Homo sapiens: one gene and its partners. The protein of the gene in region 6 purifies or fractionates together with the protein of the main gene of each other region. This does not show direct contact. Each region holds a gene or a part of one and is shown on either strand. Other genes may lie near its edges.

Region 1 (3,500 bases), on a different chromosome or scaffold from region 6:
TCTCACTTGAGTTTTTTCCTTAAGGTCTGACACCATGCCAATTTCCACAGACCTGTAACTTTAAGTTACCTTAAGCTGGGCCTGGTGGCTCACGCCTGTAATACAAGCACTTTGGGAGGCCGAGGTGGGAGGATTGCTTGAGACCAGCAACAACATAGTCAGACCACGTTTCTACCAAAAAAGAAAAAAAATTAGCCTGGTAGTGCACGCCTGTAGTACCAGCTACTTGGGAGGCTGAGAAGGGAGGATTGCTTGAACCCAGAAGGTTGAGACTGCAGTGAGCTGTGATTGCACCATTGCACTCCAGCCTGGGCAACAGAGTGAGTGAGACCCTGTGTCAAAAATAAAATAAAAACACCTAAATTTCATATGAAAATTCAGTTTGGAGTCACCTACAAGAAATAGTTGCTAGAAGAGTTTCATTTTTATAGTAGTATTTACTAGAGATTTGGTATATACTCTGGTGCAAATTTCTGTAGTTAATGCTCTGATAACCACTATAATTGTACTCTGAAAACCACTCTCAGTAAATATTTCCCAAAGTCCAAAGTCTTGATTATTTTGTTTGACCCTTTCGTTCTCACCTTTCTGTTTTTCTTTTCAGCTGATTTTTCTCATTTATGTAGGTAATTTTTGTCTTATTAGAGAGGAGTGAGTTGACTAACTTGCCTTGAGGAGAATATCACTTTGTGATTAATCAAACTATTCAGATATTATTATTACTGTTGTTTTGGAACTTCAGTATATTTGTAAGTTAGAGGCAGTAATTCAGCTGACATTTATTGCTAATGACCTCAGCCATTTGAAACATAACAGCAATCCTGGACATAAAAAAATCTCTAAGCCTTCAAAATGACTGCAACCAAGTATAATAAGCCATTAGCCTTTATTAGGAAACTACTAATTGGAATTAGTCCACAGATAAAAATCTTCAGTGTTGGCCATTGGAGTTAGGGACATTGGCAGCTGAAATGTCATCTACAGGGGAAAAGGAAGAACTATTAAAAAGTAGGTGGAACTATAGTAGAATAGTGTTTTAAGGCCATTACATAAATACATACACTCCTATAATCATTAACTTCTGAAGGAATGACAGTATCGTAGAGCAGCCTAGTAAGTTGATGCATCACAATGATAACTTTAATAATGAACTTTTATTCTGTGTACTATGTTTAAGGAAGTAAGAAATTGGTGTCTTTTGAGATTGCTATAAAAGTAACCATTTTCAAAACTCTGTTAATTAAATGTTAAGTTTCAATTTTCTGGAAAATTTACGTGTAGATCTCTCCTTATCAGATGACACCAAATAAAAATGGTGCTACTGTGTATGGAACTTCCTTTGTTTTATTATTTTAACCTATTTATCTTTCTACTTAATATTTCAAGGAATTACTCCCAAACAAGGCTCTATTACATTTAATATTTGATATCAGTAATGAACAACCAATTGCCTAAAGATTAGCACATTTGCTAATGGAGAAGATAGTAAAGCAGATAATTAGAATTAGTAAATGACCTATGCATATGATTCAGTTGTATAGTTTTGAATCCTGGTATTGAGTCTATTAGCCCAAGTGTCCTAAGGTGCCAGGTTTTTGTAGTGAGTTTTTTTCATTGCATTGCTGGCCTCCTCTGTCTCATTTACTATGTTAATTTAAACCTTATGCTTCCATTAGTGGTAAAGTAGATAGTCTTTGACTTGTGTATAAGGGGTGTGTATGTATTTTAATGATTTTGAAAGCTGGTTTGAGGAATTAGATTTTGGGAATTAATATAACAATTATTAGCATTTTGATATATTTCTTCCATTATTTTAATGTATATTTTTTATGTATTTGTGGGTAAAAACATTTAATTTCATGTCCTGCTTTTTAACCTACTGTTAGGTACCACTTTCCCATTCTCACAATGCATCTTAATAACTATCATTATAAATGATTGTAAAATGTTCTGTGCAGTGAACATATGTTATTCCCCTATGTGAAGAACATATTTATACATGTTTCTTGTATATAGTATTATCTCTCTCTTGTATATTGCCAGAATTGATTTTTTAGGTACATTTTGAAGGCTCTTAAAACATACTGAACAATATTAATCAAAAGGGATAAATTTGTATTCTCTTTCGAGTGGTTGTTACCCTATACTCATCAACATTTAACATTTTTTATAAAGGTTTAATGGGGGTGTATGACATATTGTGCTTTATTTATTTAATTACTGAGGTGAAGCATGTTTATAGATGTATTTATCTTGTGAACTTTGAAGATAAATAGATTTTAACATTATTGCAGTCAAACATCTTTTTGTTTGTTTGTTTTGAGACAGAATCTTGCTCTATTGCACAGGCTGGAGTGCAGTGGCACCATCTCGGCTCACTGCAGCCTCTACCCCCCGGGTTCAAGCAATTCTCCTGCCTCAGCCTCCTGAGTAGCTGGGACTACAGATGCACACCACCACGCCCGGCTAATTTTTGTATTTTTGTAGAGATGGGGTTTCACCATGTTAGTCAGGCTGGTCTGGAACTCCTGACCTGAGGTGATCCACTTACCTCGGCCTCCCAAAGTGCTGGATTACAGGGGTGAGCCACGGTGCCTGGCCCAAACATCTTGATATAATTTTGTTCTGCTGATTTTATGAAATTCCTCCCTTTTCAGAACTGTAATAAACAATATTGGTTTAATTCTGTTTGTTTAGTTTTTCTAAGTTAGATTTAAATAAATTTAAGTTTTTACCTCATCTGGCATTGGTGTGAAATGAGAATCTAAATGTTTTCCTCCAAATTGGTAATTTTCTCAACTCTGTTAAATAATGCTTTATTTAATTTTTTAATTTTTCTCATTTTTTTGTTATGCTTCATTTTTACATTTTAATCATTTTTATTTTAAATTGTTTATTTTTACCCCAAGCCTTAAGAACATTCATATTGTTTTTAGATGATTCTGTGATATGTTTAATATCTTTTGCCTTGGCTTTCTTATTGTGGTGTTTGTTTCCTTATTTATTTTTAAGATTACTGTAAGTTGAGGATAATAAAGTTTATTTTTTAACAAAACAATGTTTTATAATTCCTTTTCTTGTCAGCCAGAATTTGAAATAAGATTTTTCCATACCACATAATTTGGTTGCATTAAATGAAAATTTCCCCCTTTTTGAACAGAGATAAAATGTGAAACTACTTAAAAGTACTATGCTGGCCACAGTGGCTCATGCCTGTAATCCCAACACTTTGGGAAGCTGAGGTGGAAGGATCGCTTCAGCCCAGGATTTGGACACCAGTCTGGGCAACATAGTGTGACCTCGTCTCTACAAAAAATACACAAAATTAGCCTGGTGTGGTGGCGTGCGCCTGTACTTTCAGCTACTGTGGAGGATGAGGTGGAAGGATCACTTGACCCCAAAAGATTGAGGCTACAATGAGCCCAGATTGCGCCCCTACACTCCAGCCTGGGTGACACAGTGAGACCCTTGTCAAAAAACCCCCAACCAACAAGTACAGT
Region 2 (3,500 bases), on a different chromosome or scaffold from region 6:
TGACAGCTTCCAGGAAATGAAGAAATGGCTTGGAGATTATATTACAGTGTTAATTTTCAATTTGTCATGTTTCTTTAAATATTTATTTTATGACATTGAGGATACTTCAGAGAACCAGAATGTTGTAATAGAAAAATCTCTTCCTAAAATTGATCTTTCCATTTCCTCCTAGATGTCCAGTCTGTGAGGGCTTAAGACTATAGTTTTTTAGGGATTTAGTAACATTACAGATTAGCTGAGTTTAGGTTTTTTTCAGCTATAAAATGGGGATTTGTACTAGTCTATTGCATTGCTACAAAGAAATACCTGAGACTGGGTAATTTATTTTTTTAAAAAAGAGCTTTAATTGGCTCACAGTTCCACAGACTGTACAAGAATGGCATCAGCATCTGCTCAGCTTCTGGGGAGGCCTCAGGGAACTTATACTCATGGTGCAGGGTGAAGTGGGAGCAGGCACATCACATGGTGAGAGAGGGAACAAGAGAGTGAGGAGGAGGAGCCAGACCCCTTTAAACCACCAAATCTCATATGAACTAACTGAGCAATAACTCATTCATCAACAAGGGGATGGTGCTAGGCCATTCATGAGGGGTCTGCCCTGATGATCCAACACTTCCCACTAGGCCCCACCTCCAACATTGGAGATTGCATTTCAGCATGAGATTTGGAGGGGTCACACATTCAAACTACATCAGGATGCAGTCACATGTTTGAAAATATTTTGGATATATTAATATTTAGTAGTGTACTAGAGCTGGCTTGTACTGGAATGCACAAGAAAATTGTTAAATTTTCAGGAGTTTTGTGAGCTGGTTGTTCCATATGTTGGTAGCTTGAAGTTGACTAGCATGGCACCTGGTTACCTGGATAGCCAGTTCTGGACTAATGAGATGAAGTGTCACCAGTTAGGGCCTTCCTTCCTTGAAGAGCTGTTTGTGGAGCATCTACTTGCAAACCACTAGGCAGATTAAATAAGATGGGGAGCATAAGTGCTGGCACATGGTTGTGCTTCCAGCTATGGTTGAGTGTAGGTCAACAGATATTCTCTGGAAAGAAAACTGTTCTTTAAAAAGAGGTGTTAAGAATATATACATGAGGCCGGGCGCGGTGGCTCAGCCTGTAATCCCAGCACTTTGGGAGGCCGAGGCGGGCAGATCACGAGGTCAGGAGATCGAGACCATCTTGGCTAACACGGTGAAACCCCGTCTCTACTAAAAAATACAAAAAATTAGCTGGGCGCCGTGGCAGGCTCCAGAGGCTGAGGCAGGAGAATGGCATGAACCCGGGAGGCGGAGCTTGCAGTGAGCTGAGATAGCGCCACTGCAGTCTGGCCTGGGCGAAAGAGCGAGACTCCGTCTCAGAAAAAAAAAAAAAAAAAAAGAATATATACATGAGTGCTACTATTGGGCCTGTAATGAGAATTTGAATCTGTCATCTCAAGGGTCCTTAAAGCTCAGCTGGAGAGGATTCCTTGAAGCCAGAGGTTGGCAAACTATAACCCACAGGCCACATTTTGTCTGCTTACTGTATTTTTAAATAAAGTTTTATTGGAACAGTACTGCACCCATTCTTTAACATATTGTCTGTGGATGCTTTTGCATTATAGCAGAAGAAGGAGTAGTTGTGACAAACACCTTATGGCTCACAACGTCTAAAATATTTTCTATCTGGCCCTTCACAGAAAACTTTGCTGGCCCCTAATCTACACTGAATATCATCCGTGTACACATATAATACTCCAATTTCTCAAAATGCTTTACCTGCCTTTTCTGTCTTGTCTTCATAACTTGTATGTGTATGTGTCTCTGTGTGTATGTGTGCACACATGTGTATTTAGGACTCTGAAAATCCACAAATGTGTATCTTATTAGAACAAAGATGAGAAGCTTGGATGTGTCCCATCCCCACTGTCTTGAGAGAATAGCTCTGTGTAATTTTTTCCTGTCTCTTGCATCTCAGACCAATTTTCTGTCAGCACACTCGGCCAGGGATGAGGCGGCAAGGTTGGAAGAGCGCAGGGGTGTAATTGAATTTCACGTGGTTGGCAATTCCCTCAACCAGAAACCAAACAAGAAGATCCTGATGTGGCTGGTTGGCCTACAGAACGTTTTCTCCCACCAGCTGCCCCGAATGCCAAAAGAATACATCACACGGCTCGTCTTTGACCCGTAAGTGGTACTTTCTGTTCCTTCTTCCTTATTTCCTTTTTAAATGAAAGAGGAACTGCTTAGATAGTGAAAGTCAGCCATAGTCATCCACCGAATACTACTGCACCTGTCTTGCTGTGGATACAGAGCTTCACCAAGCTGATTTTCATGTCTGAAAGTGCTAAGAGTAATTTTCAACAATTTACAAATTTTCTTGTTAATGATGATGAAACTTTATATTTTACATTGCTGATGACTCTCCTGTGCTTCATTCTTTATAGCAGTGAGAGAATGTAACACTAAGATGTTCTGCTTTCTTCATAATCAAAATATTGGTTTTGGTATCTTAACTAGGTGCCATTATTGCCCAGGTCTGTGGGCAATTATTGGGATATAAGACAGGTTAACTTTGAAAATCCATTGCTTAAAAAAAAAAAACAAAAAACTAGGCCGGGCATGGTGGCTCATGCCTGTAATCCCAGCATTTTGGGAGGCTGAGGTGGGAGGATCACCTGAGGTTGAGAGTTTGTGACCAGCCTGACCAACATGGAGAAACCCCGTCTCTACTAAAAATACAAAATTAGCCAGGCCTGGTGACACATGCCTGTAATCACGGCTACTTGGGAGGCTGAGGCAGGAGAATTGCTTGAACCCAGGAGGCGGAGGTTGTGGTGAGCCGAGACCGTGCCATTGCACTCCAGCCTGGGCAACAGAGCGAAACTCCATTTCAAAAAAAAAAAAAAAAAAACCCACGAAACCCTAAAGAACTAAACTTCTCTAATTGAATTTATTTTAACATACATAGCCCAGTAGCCTATGGGGACTGTGATCCATGCCTGTGACAATTCAGAGTGATGCTTTAGACAGAGGGAAGGATTCCATAATGCGGAATTTTGCAAATTGTATATGTAAATTTTAAATTCTTTTTCATAATGTTTCTGTAATATTTTGGAGTAAGACTTAACTCTTCAGAGACACATACCATGTTTGTCCATGACTTCCTGCTCTCCCTGACCCCTCCTTGGCACTGGCTGTGCCAGTTCCAGAGCACCTCTGCACATACTCTGTTCTCTATTTGTAAACCTCAGGCACTTCTTAGGTGACTGGTATTTTGTTCTGATGGGAGTGCTGATGACATCTTGTGCAGGCGACCTAGCTCTAAAAAGTTCAGATAAAAGGATGGTCTAGCGAGATAGGGGCTACATGAAGGAAGTTTCTATAGAAACTTAGGACATGTCCCTCTTTCTTAGTTGGTTAATAAGGAACACCCCAAAAAGTATATTTATATAACTAGGATAGGTAAAACTTTGACATAATCTTATTCTTTCAGGAAACACAAAACCCTTGCTTTAA
Region 3 (3,226 bases), on a different chromosome or scaffold from region 6:
GGTGAAACCACATAATCCAAGGGCAATTCTCCCTTAGCATTCCTCTGTTGTAAAAGCACTGGGCCTGTGAAAAGAAAATGCAAAATGTTGCAAGTAAAACATTTCTATTTTGGCAGCTTAACAGCTCTTTTCTCCTTTTTCCCAAAGCATCCAGTGCTTTCTTTGCAATCATATTTTGTATTAATTCATGTCGACACAATTAACTGACTATATATATAGACGAATAAAGGTACATTAAAAAAATTCTAGTCAATTACCTAATAAGGTTTCCCCAAACGTGCATGCCTCCGTTAAATAAATAATAAATACAACTACAAATAAAAACTTTTATAAAACTTTATCAACTGTCATTTTAAAATAAGAATTTCAGTGTTCCCAGAAGAAATCTTAAAAATGTATTATTCATCTTATAAATTCTATACAAGAGCCTCAGGGGTATCTCAAAATATCACCAAGAGGAAAAAGTAGTGCCCCTTTCATTGCTAATAAACAATTCTAGCAGTGCAAAGACTACAAAACCTTGCACAGATAGAGAACAGTTTTCATATTACCCTTGCTTGTGTTCAATGTTTAGTACAGGTAACTGGTTCACACAAATTACATATTAATTCTTCTAGATCAAACTCAGATCTCATCCATCTATACTAGTTAAACTCATTTAACTACCTACTTAGAAAGTACTAAAGATAGAGTTTATCCACTAAGTACTAAAGGATGATGTGGAGAAGGCAAAACATAACTCAGTATTTGGTTACATAGCAAAGTATAGGAGTACTTTTGCCTTCATCAGTCAAGTCTTATAATTATTTATGCACTTGGCCATAAAAACGTTACAGGGGATATAAAGATTTTAGTACTAGCAGACATAATCACTAGGTCCTACAATTATAACATAGATCATATTGTCAGAAAGAGAGAACTGATTATAACTGCTAAAATTCATAATGATGACTCTGATCAGACATACATAGTAGCATAGATATAAAATGTACTTAATATAAAAGATCAACCATTGATAATATGATTAATGTATAATTTATGGAAAGAAGATAATTCTAAAACAAAATTAGGCTCCTTTTCACTGTGCCAACATCTCAAAAAAATTGTTCCAAGTTACTTCTGTTTAAAAAAAAAAAAAAAGACAAAATTACGGACACAGGATACCAAAAGTAAACAAACGTTTTAGAGAAATAAATAAATTCTTGAAATTATTGCTCTTGAGGCTGAGTGACTCACAATGAATAGATAATGCAGTTACTTCAATATAAGTGTCAAACCACTTGACAGGTCCAAACCCAGAATATGACTAAGGCAGAAACAAGTCTGTACGACTGCCAAAGGACCTTGATAAAAACAAAAACAATTAGATTTCCTCTTCTAGGAGGAGAAACTCATCTCTTTACTATTCTCCACTAAGAGCCCTAGAAAAATTCACATTGGTTGGTATAATGCCATACTCTACTGAAGAGCTGGACCTAATACAATAATGGCTCCTAACAAATATTGGCCTGAATGCCAGACACACGGCTGAGTAGAAAAATAAAACATTAAGGAGGTAGAACTTATGGTTTAGTAAACACAGAATACTAAAAAAAACAAGGTAGAAGAACTGAAAAACATTGACTATGAAATGATATCAGTAAAACAGACACACTAAGGCCTTTAGGGGGCAGGAGAAGACTATATATAACCAAATGTCTTAAACTCCCATGCTATACAGCCTTCCTTAGATGCATATATACTAAAAAGACATCTTAAGAAAATACGCTTTTTGTCTTTATGCACAATCAAATGTTTTAATTACAGGATAAGATAATGTTAAATTTAAATGTAAAATTAATACAAATAAAAACGACAAGTAATTTCTACAAATCTTTGTTTCCATATTCTAAGCTGGTCATCAGTTTTCTTTTTTTCTTTTAAAAGCACCAATCCGTTTTGAACATTTTGTTGTAAAATTTATATTATTCAGTTTAGATATAAGAAGAATGACACTGAAATAATGTGGGGCCTTGCTGAAAGCAAAGATCAAAAATCAGCAGGAAAAACGCAGATGAATATTCAGCTCAAGTTACCTCCTTCACAAAACCCCTGCATAACAGTTATCACCATTTGAAAATCCTCCTGCTTTAACTTAATTGGCTGCAAAATGTGAATGACGAAAAATATTCTAGGATATCATTTTTTTACAGTCTGTACAGAAATGACTCATTAAAAATAAGATTGAGTTTGTAGTTACATACAGGAAATGAAAAAATCCAGGTAATCACAATTGAACATTTATATCCATTTATCAATAAGCTTTCAGAAATGACTGGCTCACAAAGACATTACACACCTGAAGGAAAAAGATAAATATTTAAAACCAGCAAACTCAATTCAAAAACAGACTCTCATACACGAACCTAAATAGGCTTAATAATATATACATAAACAAATATACATTATGAAAAGGATTTTATCTCTAATAATAAAAGGTGCTTACGTTTTAGGAGACTTTTTATCCTTACTTTTTCATTAATATGAAATAAAGGCATCTTTCCTTACAGATTTTAAACATAAAATGCTATCTACCTCTGCAGGATTCATCAAAAAACTGGATAATTTATCAAAACCCATTTAGCATAAACACACTCACCCCCATGCTGTAGTAGCAGCTTGCCAATTTCTACATGTCCGTTTGACAGTGCATCATGCAAAGGAGTCACCCCGTCCACTTGAGTGAGCAGATCTACCTCTGGACAACGTTGCAAAATTTCCTGGACACACACTGTGTTGCCATAGTTACAGGCTTCATGCAAAGGCGTCCAGCCAGCATTGTCTAAATTAGAAATCAAGGCAAGTTTTAAAACAGCAGAAGTAGGACTTTTGGTAGAAAAGTACTGATGTTCTACTTTTCTCATCAGTGTGACTTTCTAGGTGCTTCATATACAAAAAGAATGCTGTGATAAAAATGTCTAGGGTGTAATCATATTTCTACCTTAAAAAATTAAAATAAAAACAATTTTAAAATATTAATGTTGGGTATTATCAAAATATGGACACCAAAAAATGTTTTTATACCATTAGTTATAAATCAATATATGAGAAATTTCTTGGCTTTGCTAAGAAATTTTTCTTATACTTTTAAGATACCTTAGGTAAATTTACTTAAATAATTTTTCTTAATGTGATATAAAACTGTTTAATATCACAAATATTAAGACATTGGACTAGACCACAAAGA
Region 4 (3,500 bases), on a different chromosome or scaffold from region 6:
CCGTGTCTTCTCTGTGACCCATGCCTCTGTCCCTCAACAGGGCAGCCACACAGTGCCCAGGGTGGCTCATCCTTGTTGGCTTCGTCATTTACCAGAGGATTCCCCGAAACACATTCTGCTCTGGCTCTTCCTGGACCCAATTCCCTGGGTCTCATTGGTTCTGCCAACTAGACATGTCCAAGGGATGAGAGGCATGGAAGACATAACCTACGCTGGCGACCGGTGGCCAGGCCCAGTCATAAGTGCTGCTGAGGGGAAGCAGCCCCCACCCCGCTCCCTGCTCCACCAGGGCAGCTTCGGTTTCCCATTTTCCATTTTGGACCTCCCTGTAGAGTGTCTGTGCACTAAAGTTTCCACCTTCAAAGAGAGTCATAGAGCCCCTGACTCCGTCTACCGTCGTGCACCACAAAATCCGCACGTGGGTCAAGGCTGGGTCTTTGGTGAGCATTCGGTGTCTTGAGGACCCCCATCGGGACTTCTCTGGTCCTCAGAGCCTAGTGGGCGCATCCTGGTTAAGTGGTTCCTCCTAGGGGCTGTGGTCAGCTGTGGGGAAGCTGCTCCTGCCAGGTCAGGAGGTGGCAGTGGTGAGGCCTGGCTTGAGGAACGGGGCATCTGGGGTGGGATAAGGAGATCAGGGTCCCCCTTGGCACCCACGCTGAACAGGCCCCATGTGCTGCCTCACTGGCCATGCAGGTATCCCACGTTCATCGATGCCCTGCGGGACCTGGACGATGCCCTCTCCATGTGCTTCCTGTTTTCCACCTTCCCGCGGACTGGCAAGTGCCACGTGCAGACCATTCAGCTGTGCCGCCGGCTCACTGTGGAGTTCATGCACTACATTATCGCTGCCCGTGCCCTGCGCAAGGTGAGCCTGGGACTGCCCGGCTGGCATCCCACCCTGCCCCCTCTCCTGCCACCCCATGGTCTTCACCCAGATGTCTCCTCCTCTCCCCTAGGTCTTCCTGTCCATCAAAGGCATTTACTACCAGGCCGAGGTACTGGGGCAGCCCATCGTGTGGATCACTCCCTATGCCTTCTCCCATGACGTGAGTGTGCCTGTCGGGAGGGGACGGGCTTGTGCTGCCTCCTAGACAGATATGGATGTGGAGGAAGGGGGATTTTGCTGTCCATGGAGTTTAGCAAGTGCTGGGTTCCCAACTGTTGATGAGGGGTGAGGCGCGGCAGAATGTGCCACACAGCATCCTCATTAAGAGCGGGAGCCTAAGCTAGCCCTATGGCAGCACCTGCCAGCTGCGTGCCCTTGGACGTGTTCCTTTCACCTCTCTGTGCCTCAGTTAACAGTGTCTACACCCTTAACAGTGCCTGGTGCTTGGCCTTTTAGGGCCGAATAAACAGTGAGAACAGCTATCAGGGCCATACCCAGCCTGCATGCCCAGCACCATGTGGTGCCACCACGGGGACAGTGGCAGAGCCCTGCCCTCGAACCTACTGGGCTCCTCGTCCCTGCTTTGCTGCCGATAGCTGCCAGACCTTGGCCAAGTGGCCTTGCCTCCCTTCTCTGCTTCCCCCTTCCTGCCTCTCTGCCCCACAGGACTCGGGGACTGGGAGAGAAGGGGAACGGTGAGCACAGGAGAAGCACTTAGCATGTGGCACTGTTTCCTACATATATTGTTTTCTTTTTCTTTTAAAATAGAGATAGGGTCTCACTATATTACCCAGACTGGTCTGGAACTCCTGAGCTCAAGCAGTCCTCCAATCTCAGCCTCCCAAAGTGCTAGGATTATAGGCGTGAGCCACAGAGCCCAGCCTTTTTCTTTATCTCTTTGAAATCCTGGGAATTGTTGGCAGGGATCCACTGAGAGAAACCCTGGTTTTGCCCTCTCATGGAGCTTCTAGTGCCCCGCAGGTGGGCCAGGCTCTCCTGCCTCCCTGTGCTGGTGGCCTGCATTTAGCCCACCTTGCTTGATCATTGAGTGGGAACTGGTGCCTTCAGCGGAGAGCAGCCGCTGCCGGTCCAGTTAGCACAGTGGCTCTGCTGCCCAGATTATCAGGGGCTCCAGGGGGAGCTGGGACTCTAGGTGCCCTGGGCTGTTACTTATGATCCCTTGTGGGTGGGGTTGCAAGGACTGGAACCTACCCTGACTGGCTGTCTGGTGGTGAGGCTGTGGCCTGTTTGCGAGTGAGAGGCGGGCTTGGCCCTCAGCAGTCCCTGTTCCCTCTCCCCCTGGGGCACGTGTGGGTGGCCCTTCCTTCTTCCCTTCCCCAGCCCTCCTCTCCTCCTCCTTCCTTCCTGCCTTCCTCTTGGTCCTTCCTTCTCTCTGATGTCCTGCCCCCATGCTGCTCAGACTGGTCTTTGTGTGTCCTCCCTGGTGGTGAATAGGGCCCTGTGGTGGGCCGGCCTCCACACAGCTGGCCCTGGGGGAAGGGAGCCAGCCACGCATTCCCCTTTCCTCCTTGGCCAGTTCACTGCCGTTGCTTCCTCTCAGCGGATGGGGAGGACTGGCACTAGGTCGTAGCGGAGCCCAGTTGTGCCCCTCCTGTGAGCAGCCAGGGTTGGGTTCATAGCTGTGGAACTCAGGCTGGTTGTAGGGGCGGGGTCTCCCTGCTCAGTGCTGGGCTGTGGGAAATGGGGTTGGTCCCCAGATGTGCCTGTCAGGGGCCCTCACAGATTCTCATGGAAGGATGGCGGTGTGAGTGAGGGAACAGGCAGGGCTTCTCTTGGCCCTATGTGCTCTCACAGCACAGGTCACTGTCTGGCAGCAGAATAGCGGAACAGCTAAGAGTCATGGGCACACCCGGCACCCATGGTGATCACTACTGATTTTCACGTTGCTCGGAACATCCTGCCGCGTCCTGGGGGCCAAATGGGCTGGCTCGGCCTCCATGGTTTTAGGGGGCAGAACTGCTCAAGAGTTGTGATTCTGTCTGGGCCTCAGTTCTTTGCCCTGTTTTGCCCTATTAACTGCTCCAGGGCAAAGATGAGCCTTCTGTGTCCCCTGCTGCTGGGATGACAGCTCTGTGCCTTTTCCCTGAGCAAAAAGTAGTTTTGTCTGCTGGCCATTTCCCAAGAGCTCCCTGGGGGCTGAGCCAGGCCAGCTGCCAGCCTACCCTGGCCCCTCGGGTCATGCCTCTGGACCTGGCTTGGGCCCAAGGAGGGAGTCACTCAATTCTGAGTGTCCATCCCAAGGTTCAGAGGTGGGACTCAGTGGGCGGCCTGAGCCCCATGCTTCCCCCGCCCCCGCTGGGCCTGGCCTTCCCAAGGCACCTTAGTCAGCCAAGGTTTTGCCAGCCCCTCTGGGCTAGAGACAGCGCTGGGAGCACCACCCTCTGGTGCTCACACGCTAGCCCAGCAGCAGACATGCAGCAAAGATTGTAGACTAGGTGATGTAGAAGGCAGGAGCTCTGGCCAGGTCGGAAAGTGGTCTGTCCGAGTCTGAGCTAGACCTGAAGGAAGTGGGAGAGCCGGAGCAGGGAGGGGAGGGCCAGCCAGTCTTCGGAGCAGCAGGGACCAGGGTCCCTTTTCTCACTCTTTTATGGGG
Region 5 (3,500 bases), on a different chromosome or scaffold from region 6:
AGATATAAACAGGAATGGCTGGAAAATGAACAATATGCTGTGTGTTAAACGACTCATTTGTGCTTAAACATATGATTACCTTAATGGAGTTGCACTGATACCTTAAAGGGAATATATTTTTATATGGAAAAGTGACTTAGGTGTTTTCTTGTTTTAGTACACTTATTTTAGTGGTCTGCTTAATGAAAAATACAGCCTTTTTTGGCTGATTCATACTGCAGCAAGCAATATTATAATTAATGTTTTAAAGTAGTTACCATCCTAGTCTATAAAAGGTATCTGCTATGTACCTGGTCCTATGCCTGTAGTCTTTGGGAATAACAAGGAAATATGACTGCTGCGGAGGAGTTGGTATGTTTACTTAAGCAGGAAAAATTGAAAAACAGTGTATATAATTACATATTAAAATATGTAACAGATAATGAAGATTGGAGAATAGATCAGAGTGTGTCCAAGTTTGAAAGAGCCAGAGCATCCTAGAATATATTATAGCTGGAAGGTAATTTAGATATAATCTTTGCTAAAGGTTTTGCTTCACAGATGAGGAAATATTTTCACAATGGTTTAGTGACTTGCTCACAGTCACTTAACTATTCAGTAACAGATAAGAACACAAGACTTCTAACTTTCTCCCACCTCCCAGTCTCTCCTCCTGCCCCATTGCTGTCAGTCAGAGAAGGCTTTATGTAGAAGGCGAGACTTTTAAACCGAGCTTTAAAGGGCAAAAAGAATTTAGAGGAATGGGAATACAGAGAAGGCCATTGAAGGGGAGATTGTGTTCAACATTGTGATGTATAGGTAAAGAATGAGGAAGCATTTGTTCTATCTGCAGGAAAGCTGTTGGAGGATTTTGAAATAGGGACTGATGTGATAAAAATGGTGTGTTAGGAGTAATGTGGTGTGCAGGATGGTTTGAAATAGGAAGGGAGAGATTAGATCCATAGAAACCAGTGTATAGAGGTATTTGGTTTATTAACTAATTACTGTAGGTGCTACTAGAGATACAAACATAATTTAAAAATTACTTGACCTCAAGAGACTTCCAGTCTAATTTATGAAATAGATAAGTCGTGATAAAGGTGTTGAGGATATTGTCCAATTACATTACATGGAATAAGGACGTTTGGGAGAAATTCTTACCTGGCCTTTACAGTAGAAACTATTTGTTTTTAGTCTTATGGACACTGAATTGTCTAATTGACTTAGTTTCCTTTTCAAATCAAACTACAGTTTGATTTGGTCAAATTTAGGTCAGATTATTAACCTGAGAAGCACATGCATAGGCAATTACGTTTGCATTTCTTAGCCTGATTAGTAGATCAATTTTTTGTCCATGCATTTGTTTTGTATTTCTTGTATTGCTTCCATCTTTAAACTCTTTTTATCTTGTTTTATGTGGGCCACCTTACATCCTTTCTGGAGCAAGGCAGGTATAAATAATATTACCATAACCATGGCACAGTGATAATGTCTGTATTTTTATAGTACTTTAAAATTTATAGCCACATTCTCATTTTCATTACCTCAGTTAGTCCTTTCAGGCAAGCGTTACTATACCCATTTTATAGTCGAGTAAAATAAAACTTAGATTAAGTGACTTTCTCAAGGTCCTGTGTTTTTATAAGCATTAAGTGTGGGTAATAGCAAGACTTCCAGCTTAGTTGTTATTTAGGCTGTGTATTAAGGCACTTTGGGGCTCTATTGTGGAGAGCTCTGAATCCTTTGTGTTGGTGTAAGAGTTTGGATTTTATTTGCTAGGCAGTAGGAAGTCACTGAATTTTTTTTTTTTAATTTTTTTTTGTTATGGACAGTGCCATGATCAGAGCCCTTAAAGTTTAGCAGCTAATTAGATGCAAAGAGATTATCAAGGTTTTGAGTTTAGGTTATCCAGAAAAGAGCATTACCATAAGCAGATGTAGGGATGTTGGGAAAAGGAGCCATTTGGGGAGTAAGTCAGTGAATTCACTTTGACATGTCATTTGAGACATGTTTGGGTGGGTCTTATTGGGTTGTAGATTCCTTGTGAAAATTGAAAATTTTTTAGTGAATTAAATGTTTGATAAACATTAATACTAGGGTTGAAATTTATGCTCATGCCACTGTGCGTGTGGACTGAGTATTGAATCTGAACGTTGTAAATTCTAGATATCTCATTTTGGCTTTGGCACTGTCTTCTAAGGTTATTTCCTTCAACAATACGATGGTGATAATACCAGTGTTAGAGGGATGCTGTGGGGAGTATCAAATTGATAGCAGAAGCATTTTTAAAGTAACTCTGTAATAGTTTTTCTTACATGAGCACAGGAGTAAAATCAGGAATTTTATTACTTGTGCTGCTGTAGAGAAGCAGAAGCTTTAGCAGCCGATGGATTCTGTGGGGCACCTGACTGTAGGTTGTTCATTTTTTGGTGCAGCCAGCATCTTAGGAGGAATGGACACTCCTAATACTCTTCTGAAAACTTTATACAGTGGAGGTGTTGCATTGTAGCAAATACAACTTACCTTGATTTCAGGGCATTCTGTTATCTAGCCCCTACCCTTGCCTATGCATTATTATCTTTACTACTTCCTTAAATAGCATGACTCAACAATTCCATCAAGGAAGTTCCCTTATTGTCCATTTCTACCACAAATACAGCATATTATCAGATTTTAATTTTTAAAGAAATTTCCCTAAAATTTGAAGATCTATCTTGGGAGGATGGCTATAATTTATCCTGAGACTTACCTGAGCCTTTCTCCCATTACCATCCTTGCAACACCAATCCCAGTTTGAGACACATGACCTGAATGTGTACCCAGTGTTTTGGTCAAGCCAGTGTGTTTGGGACGTTGTGTGAGAACCTTTACTCACACTTTTTCCTCCATTGGAAGGCCATGGTGTATGGTATGGTAGAGTGAAAAAAGGTACTGGGGGGTTCAGAGACCTGGCTTCTCTGTCACTAATTAGCTTAGTAACTTTAGGACAAGTTACTTCACCATGGATTTTTTTTTTAATTGCATTTGTAAAATAAGGGATTTCAAACTTTTAAAAGCCTTTGGTGTTCTTTTTTAAAGGCAAAAGTGGAGCTGTTCTGATTAAAATTGGATATTGGAGCAAGAAAAGCATTTTCCTCCTCCTTTCCACAGTAGCTTTTGAGGCACTTTCACAGGGTCCTTAGGACTTCTGCTGGTCATGACTTGAAAACTTTTGTCCTTATTTATCTTAAGGGACCTGTCTGTCCATTTCTTTATCTCCACAAATAGCCATCTGTCAAATCTGAGCTCCTGTCATACTTTCTCTGAAATTAGCACTTAATTTGTGTTCAGTTACCCAATTCAGCACTTCATTATACACAGTCCTATTTTCTTCTCTAATTGATTATGTAAGTAAATCTTGTCCTAAGAGCCTTGAGTGCAGGAACATACTGGTAGGGACAGAGTAGGCCTAGACATTTAACAAATAATGAATGCTTGGTTGATGGACTTAGTGGTTCTCAATCTTTGTCACCATGGGGTGA
Region 6 (4,284 bases):
AAATGAGCATCAAGTTCATATTGCTGACTTACACTCCAGAATCAATCCTGGAGGGGAGAAGGGAAAAAACATTATCAACACTCAACAAATTCTACACAGCAAAACATGATAGAACCCTAAGCAGACTGCAGAATTTCGAATTGGACCTTGTGTTTGGAGTAGGGGGAGTGGAGGACAACAGTGCATTTGCGGAGGTCCGCAGCCTGCATAGACGGCAAATAAGAGGACGAGTAGGAAGAAATATTTGAATTTCTGGCCCTGCTTTATTGCACAATCTGAGGCAACACTTCATACCACGATGCCAGTAGCCCAGTAGCTCTGGAGTGATATCAGGACAGCAGGAAAGACGGGGTTGATTGAGGGAGTATGACTCCGGAGTCTATGCTGCTAACCACCTAAAACCACCACAGTGACGACTGGTCTTAGTTGATCCTCTGCTACAAGTTAATAATTCTTTATATTAAATTTTCTTGCTCAGAAAAAAAGAGAAAAATTATTATAATAGAATATAAAGAATAGACCAGAAATAGAATAAGCAGTGAACCACACAGCGTAAGGTAGGTATTCTTTCATGAAATGTTATATATGTATTCAATATACACTTGGCAGACATTTAAAACACATATTTTTACTAGGAATGAGGGTTAGAAAACCAGACATCACTGCATTGGACTATAAAATATCAGCTAAACTCAAAACAGCAGGACCTCTCCACACCCCGATGCTCAGCCTCTTTCTTGTAGAAAATATACCCTTTAGGACAAAAAGTTTGCCAAGTCTACTTGTGGCTTGGGAAGAGCCCCGTTGGGAAGGTGTGCGTCTTCTCCCATAGGTCATTACAATCACGGGTGTTGCAGCTCCCCAGGGACCATCTGGCCTGGGAACCGCACCCATGCTCTGCAAGGGATGCAGCTGGGCAAATGATCAGAGGTGACGGAAACTGAGCATCTCCCACCCATCACTTCATCAAAGAGACAAAAGCCAGGAGGAAGACCCTCCTGAGTGAGGACCGAGGGTCCACCCACCCCTCACAAAGGGGCCACAGAATCCAGCTGAGCCCCTCTTGTCAGCCCTGGAAGACCCTGGCAATGTTGTCACCCCTACCACAACCCTCCCCTCACTGCCACCTTGGAAGACTCCGAGTCAAGAGACCTGGTTTAAGGGGAGAAGACATCCTCAGCACAAAACAGGGGTCCAGGCTTTTCCAGGCATCAAGGTCGAGACACTGAGGGATGACTGAAAGACCCCACCCCCACCCCCACCACGACCCACAGCCCCAAGATCCCCATCCCAGTTCCCACCTCCACGCCCCTCCCCACACTCATCTTCACCACCACCCCTGCCCCAACCCCATCCTCACCCGTACCCCACCCCACCCGGACTCCCACCCTCACTCCCACCCCAACTCCCACCCCAGTTCCGGCAGAATCCACTCCGCCCCTGCTGTCAACCCAGGGAAGCCCCGGGGACCGGATGTGACGCCACTAACTTACGCCTCGGGGATCAGAGAGAAGCGAGGTTCTCGTTCTGAGGGACAGGCTTGAGATCGGCTGAAGAGAGCGGGCCCAGGCTCTGTGAGGAGGCAAGGTGAGAGGCTGAGGGAGGACTGAGGACGCCCCCAACCCAGATAGAAAGCCCTAAATAATACAGCGCTGCCTCTGCTGCCAGCTCTGGACCACCTGAGGGCAGACTTCTCAGGCTGGGCTGTCACCCCCCCCCCACCCCCGCCCCCACTCTCTCCCGCCGCTTAAGCCGCAGGGGACTCTGGGAGTCAGAGCTTGGTGTGACCAGGGCCCGGCTGGTTCGGCGGGAGCCGCGCCTAGGTTCTGCCAGCATCAATGTCGGGACGCTCAGGGAGGGCTCTGCCCCTGATGTCGGCCCTGGGAAGCCCTGGTCATGGCGACCAGGAACGCAAATTCTGACGTCGGCATCTGAGGCTGACGTAGGGAAGGGGATATTGGTACCAAGAATGCGGCTTCAGGGGAGCAGAGGGAAGGCCCGGGCCCTGCTGGGAAATGAGGGAGGCATGAAGGGATCCCAGGACAGGGTGCCCACCCCACCTCTGTCTCAGACCGAGATGTCTCTTCACTCGGCCTGAGGAATCCAAGGGACGGTGACTCAGGTCTGCGGCGGGGCGTGGTAGAGGAGAACAACCCAGCCAAGAGTCAAGGGGAGGAAGAAGAGAAAGGACTCAAGGGACCTTGGAGTCCAGATCAGTGGGGACCTCAGCCCTGGGTGGTTTCAGGCACGGTGGCCCATGTGATGTGTCTTTGCTGTGCCTTTGGGGTGTCAATGAGGAGAGGGCTATGGTCTGAGGAGTGGAGCCTCAGGTCAGCAGAGGGAGGAGTCCCAGAGCCCTGAGGGAGGACTCAGCAGATCCCCGCATCTCAGAACTAGGAAATCTGTCCCTCTTATCAGCTCTGGAACCCCAGGCAGGACGGTGAGGAAGAGAAGTGGCCCCCACTTTCTCACCGGGGATCCCAGGGAGATGGTGGCTTTGGCGTGCAAGACCCATACACGATTCAGCAGGAGGGAAAGGGCTGGGCCCTGTCGGGAGTAAATCTGAATACCTGGAGGACACCCAAATAAAGGAAGTCCCCGTCTTGTCCCCCTCCCCTGCCCACCACCCCCCCCCCCCCCCCCGCCAAATGTCTGCTCCTTCTGTCAGCTTTGGGAATCCCATGCAGGTGTGATCGTGTGGTGCCCCTCCCCACTTCTGCCTGCCGGGTCTCAGGGAGGTGAGGACCTTGGTCTGAGGGTTGCTAAGAAGTTATTACAGGGTTCCACACTTGGTCAACAGAGGGAGGAGTCCCAGAATCTGCAGGACCCAAGGGGTGCCCCCTTAGTGAGGACTGGAGGTACCTGCAGCCCAGAAAGAAGGGATGTCACAGAGTCTGGCTGTCCCCTGTTCTTAGCTCTGAGGGGACCTGATCAGGATTGGCACTAAGTGGCAAGCTCAATTTTACCACAGGCAGGAAGATGAGGAACCCTCAGGGAAATGGAGTTTTGGTGTAAAGGGGAGATATCAGCCCTGGACACCCCACAGGGATGACAGGATGTGGCTCCTTCTTACTTTTGTTTTGGAATCTCAGGGAGGTGAGAACCTTGCTCTCAGAGGGTGACTCAAGTCAACACAGGGAACCCCTCTTTTCTACAGACACAGTGGGTCGCAGGATCTGACAAGAGTCCAGGTAAGGAACCTGAGGGAAATCTGAGGGTACCCCCAGCCCATAACACAGATGGGGTCCCCACAGAAATCTGCCATGACCCTACTGTCACTCTGGAGAACCCAGTCAGGGCTGTCCGCTGAGTCTCCCTGTCTTATACAAGGATCACTGGTCTCTGGGAGGGAGAGGTGTTGGTCTAAGGGAGCTGCACTCGGGTCAGCAGAGGGAGGGTCCCAGACCCTGCCAGGAGTCAAGGTGAGGACTGAGGGGACACCATTCTCCAAACGCACAGGACTCAGCCCCACCCTACCCCTTCTGTCAGCCACGGGAATTCATGGGGAACTGGGGGTAGATGGACTCCCCTCACTTCCTCTTTCCATGTCTCCTGGAGGTAGGACCTTGGTTTAAGGAAGTGGCCTCAGATCAACAAAGGGAGGGTCCCAGGTCGTATCAGGCATCAAGAAGAGGACCAAGCAGGCTCCTCACCCCAGTACACATGGACCCAGCTGAATATGGCCACCTCTTGCTGTCTTTTCTGGGAGGACCTCTGCAGTTGTGGCCAGATGTGGGTCCCCTCATGTCTTCTATTTCGTATCAGGGATGTAAGCTTTTGATCTGAGAGTTTCTTAGACCAGCAAAGGAGCAGGGTCTAGGCTTTTCCAGGAGAAAGGTGAGAGCCCCACGTGAGCACAGAGGCTCCCCACCCCAGGGTAGTGGGGAACTCACAGAGTCCAGCCCACCCTCCTGACAACACTGGGAGGCTGGGGCTGTGCTTGCAGCCTGAACCCTGAGGGCCCCTCAATTCCTCTTTCAGGAGCTCCAGGGACTGTGAGGTGAGGCCTTGGTCTAAGGCAGTGTTTTCAGGTCACAGAGCAGAAAGGGCCCAGACAGTGCCAGGAGTCAAGGTGAGGTGCATGCCCTGAATGTGTACCAAGGGCCCCACCTGCTCCAGGACAAAGTGGACCCCACTGCATCAGCTCCACCTACCCTACTGTCAGTCCTGGAGCCTTGGCCTCTGCCGGCTGCATCCTGAGGAGCCATCTCTCACTTCCTTCTTCAGGTTCTCAGGGGACAGGGAGAGCAAGAGGTCAAGAGCTGTGGGACACCACAGAGCAGC
Region 7 (3,500 bases), on a different chromosome or scaffold from region 6:
TAAATGGTAGAGAGGTAAATAAATGGTAAAATACAGTGTTAGAGCTCCTTTACAAGGAAACTGTGATAATTCCTTTTTAAATCAACTTCCAAATCTGCTTTGTAAATTCAGAAATGTGTAAATTCAGTCTTTTTAAAGCAATGAATAATACTTTGCAAATTATATCATGCACAGTAAAAAGTAGAAAGCAATAACAGGAGTAATATGAACTCAAAGATGCTCCTTATTTCATTCTTATTCTTAAATAAAGTATGTTTTATGGCTGTTTACAAACCAGTTTTCAAATGACTGGTATGATTTTGACTTTCTTGAGTCTACCCAAGAGCAAAAAGGTTGGCAGTGGTGTGGAGAGAAATACAGTGGACTTGCATATCCCATTAAATGGTTGTTAAATGTCTTAACTAGTTGAGAATTAATTGTATATTAGCAGTTGTTATTTTTGTTTTGTTTGTTTTGAGATAGAGTGTCATTCTGTCACCCAGGCTGGAGTGCAGTGGCACGATCTCGGCTCACTGCAACCTCTGCCTACCAGGTTCAAGCAATTCTTCTGCCTCAGCCTCCTGAGTAGCTGGGACTACAGGCGCATGCCACCATACCCGGCTAATTTTTGTATTTTTACTAGAGATGGGGTTTCACCATTTTGGTCAGGTTGGTCTCAAACTCCTGACCTCAGGCGATCCACCCACCTCGGCCTCCTAAATTGCTGGGATTACAGGTGTGAGCCACCGTACCTGGCCATATTAAGTTTTTTGAGAGAATTAGAAAACTGGGTTTCCTCAACTCCAAGATGTTATCAGTTGTAAAATGTACCCGTATGTTTTATACCACTAAGAAAGAAAAATAAGCCTCCAATTAAGCAACATGCCATCAATTGTAAAATATAACCAGAGGGGGGAGAAAAGTAGTGTTTAGCTGGGATACCTCCCTACTCCCTGAAAAACAAGTCAGGGTTTTATTAGTAAATGAAAATGGGAGAATGGATATTTGGTGGCAGTCATGATAACCATTTCATTTCTATATCATTATTAACCTCTTAAAATATCCATCTTAAGTACATTATGGCAAAGCTTCTTAAAATGGTGGCATTGGAATCTCAAGAAAGTCTCTTCTCATCCTACTCCTTACACAGTTGAAATTAATTGTTGCTGCCTCCTTTCTGTATCTTTTTCTTTGGCTATCATTTCTTATCCTTTTAATCAATAAATTCAACAATTTGATACAATCAGATAATTATTTCCTAAAGTTTGACTTAGAGTTAAGCATTGTACTTAAAAAGCTACAGGGTAGTCTTTCAATTAAAATTTATCTTTTAAATTCCATAGGGACCAAGGTATTTGTTGATAGCTTCAGGTCTGATAACTTAAACAAAATGTTCTGGCATCTTGAAAAACAAACTGCATGGAATTTATTCCAGCTTCTCTTCCAAAGGTGTCATGGCCCCCCTTCCTTAGGTCAATTTTGACACTTACCTATCAAGTTTTCAGAAATGCAATGAGTTCTTGCTTCTTCTGTTGTGTATGTGTTAGTGATAGGAAATTTTTTGGTCTCTTCTTAGATAATAAATATCATTGGAATATTTTTCAAACTGTGACTAAAATGTCTTTGGCATTCTCCATTGTACTTTTTATATATGTTTATGCCCTCCCTGTCTTCTGTATCTGTAAGGAATGGACCTGACATTAAGACTTCTCCATAGAGCACATGAGTAAGGATTTACTAACGAACTACATTAAACCCTTGATAGCCCTGAACAAGCATCTAAAGAATCACTCCTCTCTGTCTTTAATAAGTCATGGTAAAAAGTATGGGTAGGTAAGTTTATGACTGTATTTTAATGTTTATGAATATGATTAAGATGGTCACACTTTGAACAGACTCACAAAATAATCTTCAACTTGTTAGTGGTTTCATTTTTTTGAAAACGGAAATTCTAAAAATTACTTATGGAATGTCTGGTGTTTGGGGGATGATGTCAGAAATGAATCTGTTCTGTTGGCCTCAACCCCACATCAGACTCATCAGAGTCTGCATCTCTTTTCCTTTTTCTGCACATCTACTTTTGTTTCTTCCTAAGTGCCCAGTAATGTAAGGAAGCAAGTTCTAGTTCCCCTGTAGAGCTATAAAGCTATAAAGGAGACTGAACATTCACATTACTTTGCAGAAAGGTGCTTATGAAAATTCAGAGACTTGGCGGCTTTGGAAGATGGCTATGTAACATTAAAGTATGTTCTCTTCTCTAATGATTTGATCATTTTAACAGTATGCATTAACCCACAGGATTTCCAGTAGACATTTTCAATTGAATAGGAACGGCAATAAAACAAATTACTAAAGTGACTATAATCCATTTATATGTCTATTATTTATATGTAATATATATATACATTTACAGATGCTATATTATTTTGCTTGTAGGTATCATAACGTGATTCTAGTTCTGCCTCCTTAACTATTCTTATTTTTATTTTTTTTAGAACACTGATATTTGCATTTAATGGGGAACAAAAGATGAAGAAGGAAAAGGAATATATTCACTAAGGATTCTATCTGCTTACTGCTACAGACCTATGTGTTAAGGAATTCTTCTCCTCCTCCTTGCGTAGAAGTTGATCAGCACTGTGGTCAGACTGCATTTATCTTGTCATTGCCAGAAGAAATCTTGGACAGAATGTAACAGTACGTCTCTCTCTGATTGCGATGGAAGGTGATAAACTGATACTCCTTTATTAAAGTTACATCGCACTCACCACAGAAAACCATTCTTTAAAGTGAATAGAAACCAAGCCCTTGTGAACACTTCTATTGAACATGACTCATGGAGAAGAGCTTGGCTCTGATGTGCACCAGGATTCTATTGTTTTAACTTACCTAGAAGGATTACTAATGCATCAGGCAGCAGGGGGATCAGGTACTGCCGTTGACAAAAAGTCTGCTGGGCATAATGAAGAGGATCAGAACTTTAACATTTCTGGCAGTGCATTTCCCACCTGTCAAAGTAATGGTCCAGTTCTCAATACACATACATATCAGGGGTCTGGCATGCTGCACCTCAAAAAAGCCAGACTGTTGCAGTCTTCTGAGGACTGGAATGCAGCAAAGCGGAAGAGGCTGTCTGATTCTATCATGAATTTAAACGTAAAGAAGGAAGCTTTGCTAGCTGGCATGGTTGACAGTGTGCCTAAAGGCAAACAGGATAGCACATTACTGGCCTCTTTGCTTCAGTCATTCAGCTCTAGGCTGCAGACTGTTGCTCTGTCACAACAAATCAGGCAGAGCCTCAAGGAGCAAGGATATGCCCTCAGTCATGATTCTTTAAAAGTGGAGAAGGATTTAAGGTGCTATGGTGTTGCATCAAGTCACTTAAAAACTTTGTTGAAGAAAAGTAAAGTTAAAGATCAAAAGCCTGATACGAATCTTCCTGATGTGACTAAAAACCTCATCAGAGATAGGTTTGCAGAGTCTCCTCATCATGTTGGACAAAGTGGAACAAAGGTCATGAG

Evidence for each region.
Region 1: the proteins of MAGEA10 (region 6) and ZZZ3 purify together in Homo sapiens (co-immunoprecipitation; 3 studies listed by BioGRID and IntAct, with this or other methods). This does not show direct contact.
Region 2: the proteins of MAGEA10 (region 6) and KAT2B purify together in Homo sapiens (affinity purification with mass spectrometry; 4 studies listed by BioGRID and IntAct, with this or other methods). This does not show direct contact.
Region 3: the proteins of MAGEA10 (region 6) and SLF1 purify together in Homo sapiens (affinity purification with mass spectrometry; 4 studies listed by BioGRID and IntAct, with this or other methods). This does not show direct contact.
Region 4: the proteins of MAGEA10 (region 6) and PES1 purify together in Homo sapiens (affinity purification with mass spectrometry; 4 studies listed by BioGRID and IntAct, with this or other methods). This does not show direct contact.
Region 5: the proteins of MAGEA10 (region 6) and POU2F1 purify together in Homo sapiens (affinity purification with mass spectrometry; 3 studies listed by BioGRID and IntAct, with this or other methods). This does not show direct contact.
Region 7: the proteins of MAGEA10 (region 6) and NRIP1 purify together in Homo sapiens (affinity purification with mass spectrometry; 4 studies listed by BioGRID and IntAct, with this or other methods). This does not show direct contact.

Annotation. Positions count from the first base shown.
Region 1 is NC_000001.11:77,676,159-77,679,658, reverse strand, and holds part of ZZZ3 (ZZ-type zinc finger-containing protein 3), read left to right. Parts: intron 1-3,500.
Region 2 is NC_000003.12:20,123,946-20,127,445, forward strand, and holds part of KAT2B (histone acetyltransferase KAT2B), read left to right. Parts: intron 1-1,959; coding exon 1,960-2,168; intron 2,169-3,477; coding exon 3,478-3,500. UniProt on the Homo sapiens protein: Functions as a histone acetyltransferase (HAT) to promote transcriptional activation. Has significant histone acetyltransferase activity with core histones (H3 and H4), and also with nucleosome core particles.
Region 3 is NC_000005.10:94,691,669-94,694,894, reverse strand, and holds part of SLF1 (SMC5-SMC6 complex localization factor protein 1), read right to left. Parts: intron 2,822-3,226; coding exon 2,639-2,821; intron 2,339-2,638; coding exon of another isoform or gene 2,331-2,338; exon of another isoform or gene 74-2,330; intron 65-73; coding exon 1-64. UniProt on the Homo sapiens protein: Plays a role in the DNA damage response (DDR) pathway by regulating postreplication repair of UV-damaged DNA and genomic stability maintenance.
Region 4 is NC_000022.11:30,581,911-30,585,410, reverse strand, and holds part of PES1 (pescadillo homolog), read left to right. Parts: intron 1-693; coding exon 694-865; intron 866-956; coding exon 957-1,046; intron 1,047-3,500. UniProt on the Homo sapiens protein: Component of the PeBoW complex, which is required for maturation of 28S and 5.8S ribosomal RNAs and formation of the 60S ribosome.
Region 5 is NC_000001.11:167,227,386-167,230,885, forward strand, and holds part of POU2F1 (POU domain, class 2, transcription factor 1), read left to right. Parts: intron 1-3,500. UniProt on the Homo sapiens protein: Transcription factor that binds to the octamer motif (5'-ATTTGCAT-3') and activates the promoters of the genes for some small nuclear RNAs (snRNA) and of genes such as those for histone H2B and immunoglobulins.
Region 6 is NC_000023.11:152,135,778-152,140,061, reverse strand, and holds the start of MAGEA10 (melanoma-associated antigen 10), read left to right. Parts: upstream 1-1,484; 5' UTR 1,485-1,587; intron 1,588-3,092; 5' UTR 3,093-3,191; intron 3,192-3,981; exon of another isoform or gene 3,982-4,072; intron 4,073-4,227; 5' UTR 4,228-4,284. UniProt on the Homo sapiens protein: Not known, though may play a role in embryonal development and tumor transformation or aspects of tumor progression.
Region 7 is NC_000021.9:14,967,501-14,971,000, reverse strand, and holds part of NRIP1 (nuclear receptor-interacting protein 1), read left to right. Parts: intron 1-2,474; 5' UTR 2,475-2,808; coding exon 2,809-3,500. UniProt on the Homo sapiens protein: Modulates transcriptional activation by steroid receptors such as NR3C1, NR3C2 and ESR1. Also modulates transcriptional repression by nuclear hormone receptors.